Linked DNA regions of Homo sapiens. The protein of the gene in region 1 purifies or fractionates together with the protein of each later gene. This does not show direct contact. Each region holds a gene or a part of one and is shown on either strand. Other genes may lie near its edges.

Region 1 (7,026 bases):
GCGCAGTCTCCGCTCACTGCAACTTCTGCCTCCTGGGTTCAAGTGATTCTCCTGCCTCAGCCTCCCCAGTAGCTGGGATCACAGGCATGCTGCGCCCCCACGCCCGGCTAATTTTTGCATTTTTATTAGAGACGAGGTTTCACCATGTTGGCCAGGCTGGTCTCAAATTCCTGACCTCATGATCCACCCGCCTCTGACCTCATGATCCACCTGCCTCGGCCTCCCAAAGTGCTGGGATTTACTTTTTATTATTTATTTATTTTGAGATGGAATCTTGCTCTGTAGCCCAGGCTGGAGTGCAGTGGTGTGATCTTGGCTCACTGCAACCTCCGCCTCCCAGGTTCAAGTGATTCTCCTGCCTCAGCCTCCCAAATAGCCTGTAGGCTCAAACCACCACACCTGGCTAATTTTTTTATTTTTTTATAGAGATGGGGTATAGCCATGTTGCCCAGTGTGGTCTCAAACACCTGGACTTAAGTGATCTGCCTGCCTTGGCCTTCCAAAGTGCTAGGATTACAGATGTGAGCCACCATGCTCGACAGTGGCCTGTTTTTGACCAAAACACCATTATGCAGTGCATGACTCCATGTGTCTTGCTCAAAACTGTCCTTATATTCAGCACAAATATAAACCTTTGTACTACTATACAAATGTTACATGGTACGTGACTGCAGTTAGGTACAGCCAACCACTCATCATTTAGGGGAAGTTTTGTATCAGCATAGAGACTACATACAGTAGTCCCCCTTTATTGATGGTATCGTTTTCCACAGTTTGTTACCTGCCGTCAACTGTGATCTGAAAATATTAAATGGAAAATTCCAGAAATAATTTATAAGTTTTAAGTTTGCCATTCTGAGTAGTATGATGAAATCTTGCACTATCCTGCCCTGTCTCATCTGGGGCGTGAATCATCCCTTTGTCCAGTGCATCCACACTGTATACGCTACCTGGCCATTAGTCACTTAGAAGCTATGTCAACTGTGGCAGTATTGCAGTGCTTATGTTAAGTACCCCGCGCTCCCCCCCTTTTTAAAAATAAATAATTGCCCCAAACTGCAAAAGTAGTAATGGTGGCAATTCAGATGTATCAGAGAAGCCGTCAAGTGCTTCCTTTATGTGAAAAGGTGAAATTTCTTGACTTAATAAGGAAGGAAGGAAGTTACATGCTGAGGTTGCCAAGATCTCTGGTAAGAACAAATCTTCTATCTGTGAAACTGTGAAGAAAGTAAAAGAAATTTGTACTAGTGCTACTGTTGCACCTCAAACTGCAAAAGTTACGGCCACAGTGTGTGATAAATACTTAGTTAATATGGAAACAGCATTAAAGGCAAGTACAGGCATCTCCAGGATATTGTGGGTTCAGTTCCAGACTACTGCAATAAAGTGAATATCACAGTACAAGTAACAATAACTTTTGTTTTCCCAGTGCATGTGAAAGTTAAGTTTACACTATGCTATACAGTCTATTAAGTTGGCAATAAATTATGTCTAAAAAAACAATGTACATACCTTAATTTAAAAATATTGCTAAGAATCCTAACAATCATCTGAACCTTCAGAGTCATAATCTTTTTGCTAGTGGCGGGTCTTGCCTCAGTATTGATGGCTGCTGACTAATCCGGGTGGTGGTTGCTAAAGGTTGGGGTGGCTGTGGCAATTTCTATTTTTTTTTTTTTTTTTTTTTTTTTTTTTGAGACAGAGTCCTGCTCTGTCGCCCAGACTGGGGTGCAGTGGCACGATCTCGGCTCACTGCAACCTCCGACTCCTAGGTTCAAGCAATTCTCTTGCCCCGGCCTCCTGAGTAGCTGGGATTACAGGCGCCTACCACCATGCCTGGCTCATTTTTTTGTATTTTTAGTAGAGACGGGGTTTCGCCATGTTGGCCAGGTTGATCTCGAACTCCCGACCTCAGGTGATCCACCCGTCTCGGCCTCCCAAAGTTCTGGGATTACAAGCGTGAGCCACCATGCCTGGCTGAAATATGTTTATTTATTTTTTTGAGACAGAGTCTAGCTGTGTCACCCAGGCTGGAGTGCATTGATGCTGAAATAAATTTCTTATGCAATAAGACTTCAAAGTAAAAATTACTCCTTGATCTGCGGGGCTGTAGAATGGATGTTGTTTTACAGGGATGAAAACAACACTCATCTCCTTGTTCATCCCCATCAGAGCTTGTGGGTGACCAGGTGCGTTGTCAATGAGCACTAGTATTTTGAAAGGAATTTTTTCTTCTGAGCAGTAGTTCTGAACAGTGGGCTTAAAATATTCTGTAAACCGTGCTGTAACAGATGTGCTGTCATCCAGGCTTTGTTGTTCCATTTCTAGTGCACAGGCAGTGTAGATTTAGCATAATTCTTTTTTTTTTTTTTTTTTTTTTTTTGAGACACAGTTTGGCTCTTGTTGCCCAGGCAGGAGTGCAATGGCGCTATCTCGGCTCACCGCAACCTCCGCCTCCTGGGTTCAAGCGATTCTCCTGCCTCAGCCTCCTGGGCAGCTAGGAAATACAGGCATGCACCACCACGCCCAGCTAATTTTGTATTTTTAGTAGAGACAGGGTTTCTCCATGTTGGTCAGACTGGTCTCAAACTCCTGACCTCAGGTGATCCGCCCGCCTTGGCCTCCCAAAGTGCTAGGATTACAGGCGTGACCCACCATGCCCGGCCTGATGTAGCATAATTCTTAAGAGCCCTAGGGTTTTCAGAATACTAAAATGAACACCGGGTTCAAGTCACCAGCTGCATCAGCCTGTAACAAGAGAGTCAGCTTGTCCTTTGAAGCCAGACATTGACTTCTCTCTAGTTATGAAAGTCCCAGATGACATATTCTTCCAATAGAAAGTTGTTTCTCATACATGAAAATTTGTTGTTTAGTGTAGCCCCCTTCCTCAAGTAATTGTAGCTAGGCGCGTGCCACCACAGCCAACTAATTTTTGTATTTTTAGTAGAGACAGGGTTTTACCATGTTGGTCAGGGTGGTCTTGAACTCCTGACCTCGTGACCTGCCCACCTCAGCCTCCCAAAGTGCTGGGATTATGAGCGTGAGCCACTGTGCCCAGCCCATTCAGAAAATTTTTAAAAACAAGCAGGTAAGTGTTTTAAAAGTCAGGTTTTTTGGCTAGGCATGGTGGGTCATGCCTATAATCCCAGCACTTTGGGAGGTTGAGGCAGGTGGGTCACCTGAGCTCAGGAGTTGAAGAACAGCCTAAGCAACATAGTGAGACCCCATCTTTACCAAAAATACAAAAAATTAGCTGGGCATGGTGGCACACACCTGTGGTCCCAGCTACTAGGGAGACCGAGGTGGAATAATAGCTTGAGCCTGGGAGGCAGAGATTGCAGTAAGCCAAGATTACGCCACTGTAGTCCAGCCTGGGTGATAGAGTGAGACCCTGTCTCAAAAACAAACAAACAAACAAAAGTCAGATGTTTTGAATGGAAAGTTAATCCTCTGGATATCGGTTCAGAGGTTTTCTTCCTTATATCCAGTCTTTCCCCCCCTCTGCCTTTTTCCTTATAGATATGTATGTGTATAACATCTGGAAGAGAACAAAGATAAGATTGGACTATGTTTAATACACTTCAGCTTTTCTTTTAGGTCAGAACAGGAGGTTGGCAAGGCAACTGTTGCATATGCTAAAATCTATTTCCCAAATCGCTCCCCATAACCGATGGTCGTTTGGGCTTTCGTCTTACCCCAGCCTCTTATTTCTGCTTTGAGAACACCTTTAGATTTCAGTGGCGTCTAACTGATTTAGAAGACATTGGGTAAAGTAGTCAGTTCTGTTAATTTGCTGTGAATTAAACCATATTCTGCCCACAAGGCTGTGTTTGAGAAATAACTATAGAGAGCTTCAGGGGACTCTCTGGAGCTTGACAAGCTCTCTTGTCAGCTTGCCAACTTGTCCATTTAGTCCAAAAAAAAAAAAATAATAAAGCCATATAGGCCTAGGTTGTAATAGCTAGCACAGCTGTTTTGGTACTGATCAGATGAGGCATGTTGTGTGCAAAGCCGATATTGGCTGTGCACTTTTTCTTTCAGAAAGAACCCCCAAGACCTGAAGGACTTGCCAATACTATATTCTTCCCCCTCCCAGCATTTAGGAAACAATGACTTGTATCATTTAATAGACAAAGATAATATATCTCATAGAAAGAGCCCAGAATTGGGAATCTGAAAAGTGTGTTTCTAGGGAGTTGGATTCTGTGTCTATACTGAACTAACTTTGTAATTCTGGAAGTTGATTTGTTTTTTGTTTGTTTGTTTGTTTTGAAATGGAGTTTTTTTGCTCTTGTTGCCCAGGCTGGAGTGCAATGGTGCGATCTCGGCTCACTGCAGCCGCTGCCTCCCAGGTTCAAGCAATTCTCTTGCCTCAGTCTCCTGAGTAGCTGGGATTACAGGCGCCTGCCACCACGCCTGACTAATTTTTTTTATTTTTAGTAGAGACAGGGTTTTGCCACGTTGGTCAGGCTCATCTTGAACTCTTGACCTCAAATGATCCACTTGCCTCGGCCTCCCAAAGTTCTGGGCTTACACGCGTGAGTTACCACACCCATCCTGTATGCATTTTTTAAAAGGCTGGTTCTGTGTTATTGTTATAGTTATTTAGAAATAAATATTTGGGGCCGGGCGCGGTGGCTCAAGCCTGTAATCCCAGCACTTTGGGAGGCCAAGGTGGGCGGATCATGAGGTCAGGAGATCGAGACCATCCTGGCTAACACGGTGAAACCCCATCTCTACTAAAAACAAAAAAATTTAAAAAAAACTTAGCTGGGCGTGGTGGCAGGCGCCTGTAGTCCCAGCTACTCGGGAGGCTGAGGCAGCGGGGAGAATGGCTTGAACCTGGGAGGCGGAGCTTGCAGTGAGCCATCGTGCCACTGCACTCCAGCCTGGGTGACAGAGCGAGACTCTGTCTCAAAAAAAGAAAAAAAGAAAGGAAAAATATTTGGGGCAAAATATAGTGTTCAGCAAACCAACTTGATTATCTTACCTTCTTATTCAAGTTCATGAAGGCCATTTTTTTTTCCTCCCACAAATTAGAGCCTGGTATTTCAACATCAGATATTCTGTCTTGGATTAAACAAGAAGAAGAGCCTCAGGTTGGGGCCCCACCGGAGTCCAAGGAGAGTGACGTGTACAAAAGCACTTATGCTGGTGAGTATGAAATTAAAGAGGTGTTCATGTCCATATCCAGCTCATGCCAGGACTGACTGAAGAAACAGCAGGTGAAATTTGTAGAGGCAAATATGTGGGAGAAGAATGAGGGAAAGAAAAAGCCATGCTCAACATTATGAATGAAACCAAACAGTCACTAAGATAAATTTGAAGTGAGTGAGAAAATACACTCTTACATGCAAAGACAAATGAGAATTGTCAGAAGAAGAAAAACAAGTGCATACAGACGAACCAAAATTATGGGGATGGGGAAAGACAGAAGACGATTTGAAAATCATGTAGAAAGGGTAGAAAACGTGGGAGTGGGGTGGGGAGACAAGCCCTGGAGACAGAAATGGCCATGGAGAGGTGTAAATGGGAATGTTAATTAAGAGCCCTCCCTCAGTGAAAGGAAAATCAATGATGGGAGAAGAAATATAAGTATCTTCCTTCTAAGATACTTTTGCCATTTGTATTGTAGAAGAGAATCTCAAGATCAGAAGGGTCCCAGTCATTTATACAGCTTAATGCATTCTGTTTTTTTTTTAGTATTTTCTGTGCTCTGTGTTCTTTTAGACTGGGAAACACAAATGAAACATAAGATAGTTTTAGCTCTTGAAAAAACTTATGCTAGGGACATACATATCAGTACTAGGCAAGCCTGTTAAGTGTCAAGGATGAGTGGGGTGGACGACTTATATAAATGAATGAGAAGTTTCAGGAACATGCATCAGGTTTGGCTTGGTGACTCGTGCCTGTAAGCCCAGCATTTTGGGAGGAGGTTGAGGCAGGTGGATCACTCGAGCCCAGGAGTTCAAGACCAGCCTGGGTAACATAGGGAGACCCTGTCTCTAAAAAAAAGGAAAATATGCATCAGTTTTAGTTTAGGTATTTAGATAAGACCTAAAGAAGGGCATAAAGCCACAATTGTACCTTAAAAGATTGGTATGATATGGCTGGGTATAATTTGGAAAGATGGGGAGAGAGGGGTAGCATTCTACAAAAGGGAGGACAGAGTAAGTCAAGATGCATAGCAGAAATGTATACTCTGTTCTCAGGGGAAGTAAAGAGACAGCTGACCACAGTGATGGGTTGATCTGATAGAATACAGAGAAATAGGAATAGATAATTATGTGATTTTAGGCTTTGTCACAACAGGCAATAGAGAAAGTTCTTGAGTAGAGGTAAAATATAGTGAAAGTAACGTTGGGAAGATTGATGCCAAGGATTTTCTGTTTCTTAACAGATAGCATAGAAGAGGTACAGTGTTAAATTTTCTGATGAGGGCTGGGTGTGGTGGCTCATGCCTGTAATCCCAGCACTTTGGGAGGCTGAGGCAGGTGGATTACTTGACACCAGGAGTTCGAGACCCCTGGTCAATATGGCAAAACCCCATCTCTACTAAAAATATAAAAATTACCTGAGCACAGCTGGACGCGGTGGCTCATGCCTGTAATCCCAGCACTTTGGGAGGCCGAGGTGGGTGGACCATGAGGTCAGGAGATCGAGACCATCCTGGCTAACACAGTGAAACCCTGTCTCTACTAAAAAGACAAAAAAATTAGTTGGGCGTAGTGGCGGGTGCCTGTAGTCCCAGCTACTCGGGAGGCTGAGGCAGGAGAATGGCGTGAACCCGGGAGGCGGAGCTTGCATTGAGCCGAGTTTGTGCCACTGCACTCCAGCCTGGGCGACAGAGCGAGACTCCGTCTCAAAAAAAAAAAATTACCTGAGCACGGTAGTGCATGCCTGTAATCCCAGCTACTCAGGAGGCTAAGGCAGGAGAATCACTTGAACCCAGGTAGTGGAGGCTGCAGTGAGCTGAGGTCACGCCACTGTACTCCATCGTGGGCAACAGAATGTGATCCTGTCATA
Region 2 (7,026 bases), 300 kb from region 1:
TCAGGAGAGGCAAGCTGGGAAATGCAACCGCTACTCCCGGAGGGGTCCTTCCTGCTGCACTGAGGTGTGCTCCAAGGGACCCAATGGCCCTCACTGCCCAGGGGCTTGGTGCGCTAGGCCCACTCAGCCCAACTGGGCAGAGCAGGGGCACACACAGGACCCCATCCCCAGGAGTCAGTGGGCCAGGGGTCCCCAACTGGCCAACCTTCCAACACACTATCAGACTCAGTGAGATAGTGACAGAAATGCACGCCCTGAAAACCAAAAGTACCTACAAAATTTAAATAGCCCTATTACTATTTTCCAGCTTTTTCCTCAAGAATTAAAAAAAAACAAAAAACAAAAAACAAAACAGGTTTGCAATTAAATTACTTAAAATTCTACGGCGCTCCCATTTCACAGAGAATTCTACTTGGTTTAGAGGTGGCAGCTGTCCTGGTGGATAGTTTCTCTTTCTCCAGTGATCATCAGTTCAGCAACTTGGACATTTGGTTCTCCCCGTCCCGCGTCTGCCTGAAGCTTCCACGCCGCCCTGCTGCCTGCACACGGGGCTTTTTACACGTGCGGCCGGCAGGGGCTATGGGGCTGGAGGCGCTCACATGTCCCCGCCATCGGTGGGTCCCAGGACGCTGAGGCCACAAGTCCAGTCGGTCACAAGGTCTGTGGAGGCCAAAGGTCCTTTGGAGGCGGGGCTCTTGAAGGGATCAGGAGGTGCGGGCGGCGTCGGGAGTGGCTGGCCTCGGGCCGGGGTCTTGGCGCCCGCTGCATGGTTGCGCTGGTGCTTGCGGAGGTGGTCCTTGCGGATGAAGCTTTTGCCGCAGACGGTGCAGGTGAAGGGCCGCACGCCCGTGTGCGTTCGGTAGTGGTCGATGAGCTTGGAGCGTTCGGTGAAGCGCTTCTCACACTCGGTGCAGGGGAAGGGCCGCTCGCCGGTGTGCAGCATGCGATGGCGGATGAGGTGCGCGGGGCGCGTGAAGCAACGGCCGCACTCCCCACACCGAAGGGCGCTGCCATCCCGTGCGCTGCCCCCACCGCTGCCGCCACCGCCGCCGCCACTGCCGCTGCCGCCACCGCCTGTGCCCGGGCCCGACCCGTCGGGCGCCCCACAGCTGCGCTGGTGCGCGCTCAGGCTGACTTGCAGCTGGAAGCTCTTCCCACACGTGGCGCAGGTGAAGGGCCGGCCCCCGGGGGGCGCCGCGGGGTGCTTCTTCAGCCCTGGCTTGTGGCCAAAGCCTTTGGTCCGGCCAGGGTATTTACAGGGTTCGTTGAATGGCCTTGGGGCCTGGCTGGGGTCCAAGATGGCCTCTCCGTTGTCCGGGGAGGAGTAAGGAAGCCCCTCGGGCCCCGTCCTCGGGTTCAGGCCCACTGGCGGTTTACACCGGAAATTCCAGCCCCACCGGACCCCTCCGAAGAGCCAGTCCCCAGGAGGGGTCTCCTCCTGGGCCACAGCAGGACTGAGCTCACCCATGTCCCTCTCAGGCCGGGCGGGCTCTCGCAGCCCCAGCACAGGGTCCTGGCTGGGGAAGGAGCTGCCCTGGCTTTCCCAGGCTCCTTCCTGGGCAGGACTAGGGAAGAACCGTGTGGCTTGGCCTGGTCCAAACAGGGTCCCGTGAGCCTCTAGGTCAGTAGGATGTACGGGTGTGGCCACCACCTCCTCTTCCTGGACTTCTGTTTTTATTACAATTTTTACATCTGCTGAGAAAGACAGAAAGACAGATACTGACCTGTCCCTTAACTGCTGAGCGAGCCACGATCTGCCACCATCACCTGCTCAGCAGCTGCCTGGCCAGACAAACTCCACCCAGGCCCTCGTGGCTGAGCCCAGAGGGCAGCTCAGCAGAGCAGCCTGGTGGCTGTGAGGCTGCCTCCCCCTCGAGGACACCAGTGTTCTGGCACCTTCACCACAGGACAAGCCACCATATCTGCTCCCCAGGCTCCATTTTTCAGTTTGGCTGTTAAGGCTAAGCATGAATTGATCCTCAGAAAGGAATTCGAACTGCTGCAGGCACTGTGCCCCACCACAGTGCAGGGAATGGGGGTTCAGACAGCTCGGCCACACACCAGCTGTGGGCTGCAGGCAGTTTCTAACCCACAGCTCATCTGTGAATGCCCACTTCACAGGTGTGAGGATTAAACCAGACAACATGTCTGAAAGCACCTTAGTGAGCTATTTGACATGCAGCAGCATTCAATAAATGGACCCACCAGCTAATGATAAAAATATTAGTGAATAAGAATGTGTTTGGCCAGGCGCGGTGGCTCACGCCTATAATCCCAGCACTTTGGGAGGCCAAGGCGGGGGGATCATGAGGTCAGGAGATTGAGACCATCCTGGCTAACATGGTGAAACGCCGTCTCTACTAAAAATACGAAAAATTAGCTGGGCGTGGTGGCGGGCACCTGTAGTCCCAGCTACTTGGGAGGCTGAGCAGGAGAATGGCGTGAACCCGGAAGGCGGAGCGTGCAGTGAGCAGAGATCGCCCCACTGCACTCCAAGCCTGGGGGACAGAGTGAGACTCCGCCTCAAAAAAAAAAAAAAAAAAAAAAAAAAAAAAGAATGTGTTTGATTTTATATAAGCGTACTTCAACTTCACATTCTGAGGTTTCACATCAGGGATCTTGGCTATTAGCACGTTTTTTGGGTGCTAAAATATGACGTTATTATAGTAACAGGTGACTGGTCTTCAAAACAGAAGTAAACAGAAAGCTAACAGATAAATTTGGTGGTGGTTCTTCTGAAATCGGCCTTCAGACACCTGTCTTTGGTAGTACCAATATCTAAGAAGTGGTTTCAGTTCAATTTTGTTTTCCTCCATGCCAGAGAGAAGCCACAGTTTCCTAAGCTGGGGAGGAGGTATATCCTTCAAGAGATAGGCTTGTTAGAATAGACCACTTAACACCATATGAAAAAGCAACAGACTGAAACATGGATGTCCTCAAGAAGGGCTGCTGACACCTATGATTTGGCAAGGAGATAAATAACAGAATGTGCAAAGGGTCATAAGAGTGCAGACACCCTAATGTCTGTTGGCTGGAAGGTCAGAGCAGTTCACCAGTGAAAATGGGATGCCTGGACCGAGGTACTCCCCACAGGCAAGCATGGCCCTTCCCTTCCTCCTCTCGCCACCTGTACCTTCCGTGGAGGCTGCTGTGTTGAGCTTCAGGGTCCCGTCCGAGCATGCTGAAGAGGGATGGTGGGGAGGGAGATCCGTTTGCCAGGAGGTGGGCGGGATGGTGGTGGAAAAGTTGGAATGGACACCTGCGGTAAGGGGAGAGCAGAGCCGGTGGGTTAGGGGACGGACGGGGAGGACAGAAGACTGTTGGGGAGGAGAGCAGGCTAAACTCTGAGGTCCCCCCACTGGGGGCTTTTCTGAGTGGGCACGAGGACCCAACCTCTCTGAACCCAGTGTCTTTTGTCCCCCTTTCTGAGGCACTGGGAAGCTCAGACATCATCAGTATGTTTCCCACGGGCCCCTCTCGAATAGAGGCAGCCAGTGACTTCAATGCCCAATGCTGGGGCAAGAGAAGCGGCCTCACGGTGATATAGGGGCCACTGGAACAGGGCCAGAGAGACACCCAGGGACAGCATCAGCCACCCGAGAGAGGCTCGAGACAAGTCCTTTAGTACAGTCCTACCTCGAGACGGGAAAATTTCTAAAGTTGTCAGGCCGGAAGTGTTGAGGGCCCACAGCTCCCCCATGCTGCCACGAGCCCTCCCCTGTCCCTCCTGTGATCCCTGCAACTTGTTCCTTATGTCCCCGTCTCAGCCACTTACCAGAGGTGGCATCCGTGGAGATGTCTCCTGCTCCGGAATCCAGCTGGCTGAGGCCCCAGGGCTCCTCCCCAATATCTGGCTGCCCGGCTGCCCACGCCTCCACGCCCAGGGCCTGCTGCTCCTGGAGCTGGAGCTCACCCTCCTGCTTGATCTGCATCAAGAGGTCTGGGGCGGGAACTGGGGGCCCCGAGCCTAGGAAAGGGAGTGAGTGTGAGGATACAGCATCACGGCCCCTCAGCCCTGGGGCATACACGCATCCAGCCGGAGAGATAGACACAGGGGCCTTACAAGGGTCCAACAGCAAAAGAGCCTGGTGGGAAGGGAGGCAGCAGCAAACAGGATGGGAGCCTAGGGCAGAGCCTGAGGTCACATGGTATTGGGAATGCGGGTAGGGTAGGAAAGGCTGAGGCGGGGGAGGGGAAGAATACACAAGCACATTCTCAGGGCTAGGCTGGTGGTCCAGAGGGAGACTAAGTTGCCCTGGGGATGGCCTGCCCTCACTTGAAACACAAGAAATGCTGAACAAAAGTGAACCCCAAGTCCCCCCAAAACCTTCCCCCCTCATATATTTAAGTGAGTGCAAAAGAAAAGATCCCAGAGGCAAGAATGACAGAGAACACACAGAGTCAATCACGAGTTACAGTGGAAGGCAAGTGACCTAGAGAGTTGTTGGAGTAGGATACAGGCCTTAGGGGCTGGGCTTTCATGTCCATGTGAGGTTGGGAGTGTGGCCGAGCCGCCTGCCTGAAGCCAGGAGTCATAGGCTCTGGCCTGTCTGTGAGATGGGGACTAGGAAAACTCTGTCTGCCTGCGGGAGCCACCAGGAAGCAGCCTACTTGTCCAGGGCTATGTGTGGGAAAGAAACCCATAAAAACTTGGAATCCCATGTCCACACAGAATTCACACTACCCACACGGGCAGACACCATAAACTGAGAAATTCACAGAAAAATTGGCTGAGAGCCATGGCAACTCAGGAGGCCCCAGCATGGGCAAATGCAGATCTGCCTCAGAGGGGCACCCACACAATGCAGTCCACAGGGGGCTCCTAAGGGAAAACTAAAACCAGAAGAAAAACTAAAACTTACAAAACAGAAGAGGTGCCAAATGGCCATGAGAGTCATGGCAGAGTTCACTCCCAAGAACTAATGAAAAAAAGGAGAGGCTGAATGATACAGTAACCTAAGTATGTCTAAGATCATCAAAGAGATAAAGAACAGAATCTTTAAGGCAAGAACAGCAAATTATTTTGAAAAAGGCAGATTTGAAAAAGAACTCAACATTCTAGAAACGACAGAGGCAGCTGTGGAAATGAAAAACTCAAATGGATGGCTCTGGCTCAACAACAACAGACTGAACACAGCTAGAGAGAATATTAGTGACTTGGGAGAGAGATCCAGGGAAATAACCCAGAGTACAACACTGAGAGATAAAGAATGAAAAATATGAAAAAGTTAAGAGACCTGGAGGACAGAATGAGAAATTCCAACACATGCTGGTAGAAATCCCAGAAGAAGAGAATGGAGAAATGAGTAATGGCAATAGGTAAAGAAATAATGGTTGAGAATTTTCCAAAACTGAAGGCATTGTTAAGTCCACAGTTTGAAGGAACAGACCAATTCCCAAGTAGGTAATAAAACAAACAAACAAACCTAGACAACATTCATGTGAAATGGAACCACAGCAAAGACAAAGAGAAAAACCTTAAAAGGTACCCAAGAGAAAATAATGACATTCAGACTACAGGAGATTTTCTTCAGCAACTAGGATATCAGAAGACAATGGAATATCTTCAAATGTTGAGAGAAAACATCTGTCAACTCATTTTATGAGGCTAAGACAATTTTTATTGCACAAACTAGAGGGGTAGTATATGAACAAATTTAAAAAATAATCTCATATATGAACAGATATGCAAAGATTCTAAATGAAAGAATTACAAATCAAACTCAGCAATATATTTTCAAAAAAGAAAAAGACATATTATGAACACATTGGGTTTATTCTGAGAGCTCAAGGATAACACTAGAAAATATAACGAACAAAGTTAAGATTAATAGCAAAAACAATATAATCATCTCAACAGATGTAAAAACAGCATTTAGCTCTTCTATTTCTGACATATGGCTGGCTAGATGTGCAGAGAAACAGAAATTCCTCCCAATGTGGAATATCTAAAATTGCTGAGTAGGCTGGGTACAGTGGCTCATGTCTGTAATCTCAGCAGTCTGGGAGGCTGAGGTGGGAGGAGCTCTTGAGCCCAGGAGTTTGAGGCTGCAGTGAGCCATGTTTGTGCCACTACACTTCAGGCTGGGTGACAAGGTGAGACCCTGTTTCAAATAAACAAACAAAAAAAGCCAGCCTAGGCAACATAGAAGACCCTGTCTCCACAGAGGGGAAAAAAAAAAGTTTTTAAAAAAAGTTAGCCAGGCATGGTGGCATCCCCTGTGGTCCCAGCTACTCAGGAGGCCCATTGTGGCCCAAAAACTTCCAGGTCAAGACTGTAGCTTGAAGTGGTCCTAAGTCTGCATTGGCATCAGATGACCAGCTGAGGAACACACACACATTCTCAGGAGGAAAGCATTTTAAACATAGCTTTCAAATAATCAATGAGCTCACAATTACACATCACCATCTCGAGAAAATCAGCACCACAAACTCAGCAGAAATCATGAACTGGAGAATATGACCAATGACTTTGGATATTAAAATTATCATATAAGGAATATAAAGTTCAATTATTTACAGAAATAAAAAGGGGGAATGAAAGTATGGAGAAATAAGACTATCAAAACTGACCAAATTTTGAAAAAGAATCAAATGTAACATTCTTTAGAATGGTGAGAAAAAATAACTGTTGTTTTGTTTGTTTGTTTGTTTGTTTGTTTGAGATGGAGTCTCGCTCTGTTGCCCAGGCTGGAGTGCAGTGGCGCGATCTTGGCTCACTGCAACCTCTGCCTCCCGGGTTCAAGCAATTCTCCTGCCTCAGCCTCCCCAGTAGCACTGGGACTACAGGTGCATGCCTCTAGGCCCAGCTAATTTTTATGTATTTTAGTAGAGATGGAGTTTCACTGTGTTGCCCAGGCTGGTCTTGAACTCCTGAGCTCAGGCAATCTGCCAGCCTCGGCCTCCCCAAGTGCTAGGATTACAGGCGTGAGCTACCGCGCCTGGCTAATAACTGAAATTTTAAAATCCAATGTGTAGGTTAAACAACAGAATGGAAATGATTGAATGGTGAATAGTGAACTAACT

What was found. Proteins that work in one complex are often made in the same cells at the same time.
Region 2: the proteins of ZNF398 (region 1) and ZNF746 purify together in Homo sapiens (affinity purification with mass spectrometry; 2 studies listed by BioGRID and IntAct, with this or other methods). This does not show direct contact.

The regions. Positions count from the first base shown.
Region 1 is NC_000007.14:149,171,428-149,178,453, forward strand, and holds part of ZNF398 (zinc finger protein 398), read left to right. Parts: intron 1-5,040; coding exon 5,041-5,154; intron 5,155-7,026. UniProt on the Homo sapiens protein: Functions as a transcriptional activator.
Region 2 is NC_000007.14:149,473,789-149,480,814, forward strand, and holds part of ZNF746 (zinc finger protein 746), read right to left. Parts: intron 3,968-7,026; coding exon 3,776-3,967; intron 3,260-3,775; coding exon 3,134-3,259; intron 1,696-3,133; coding exon 596-1,695; 3' UTR 1-595.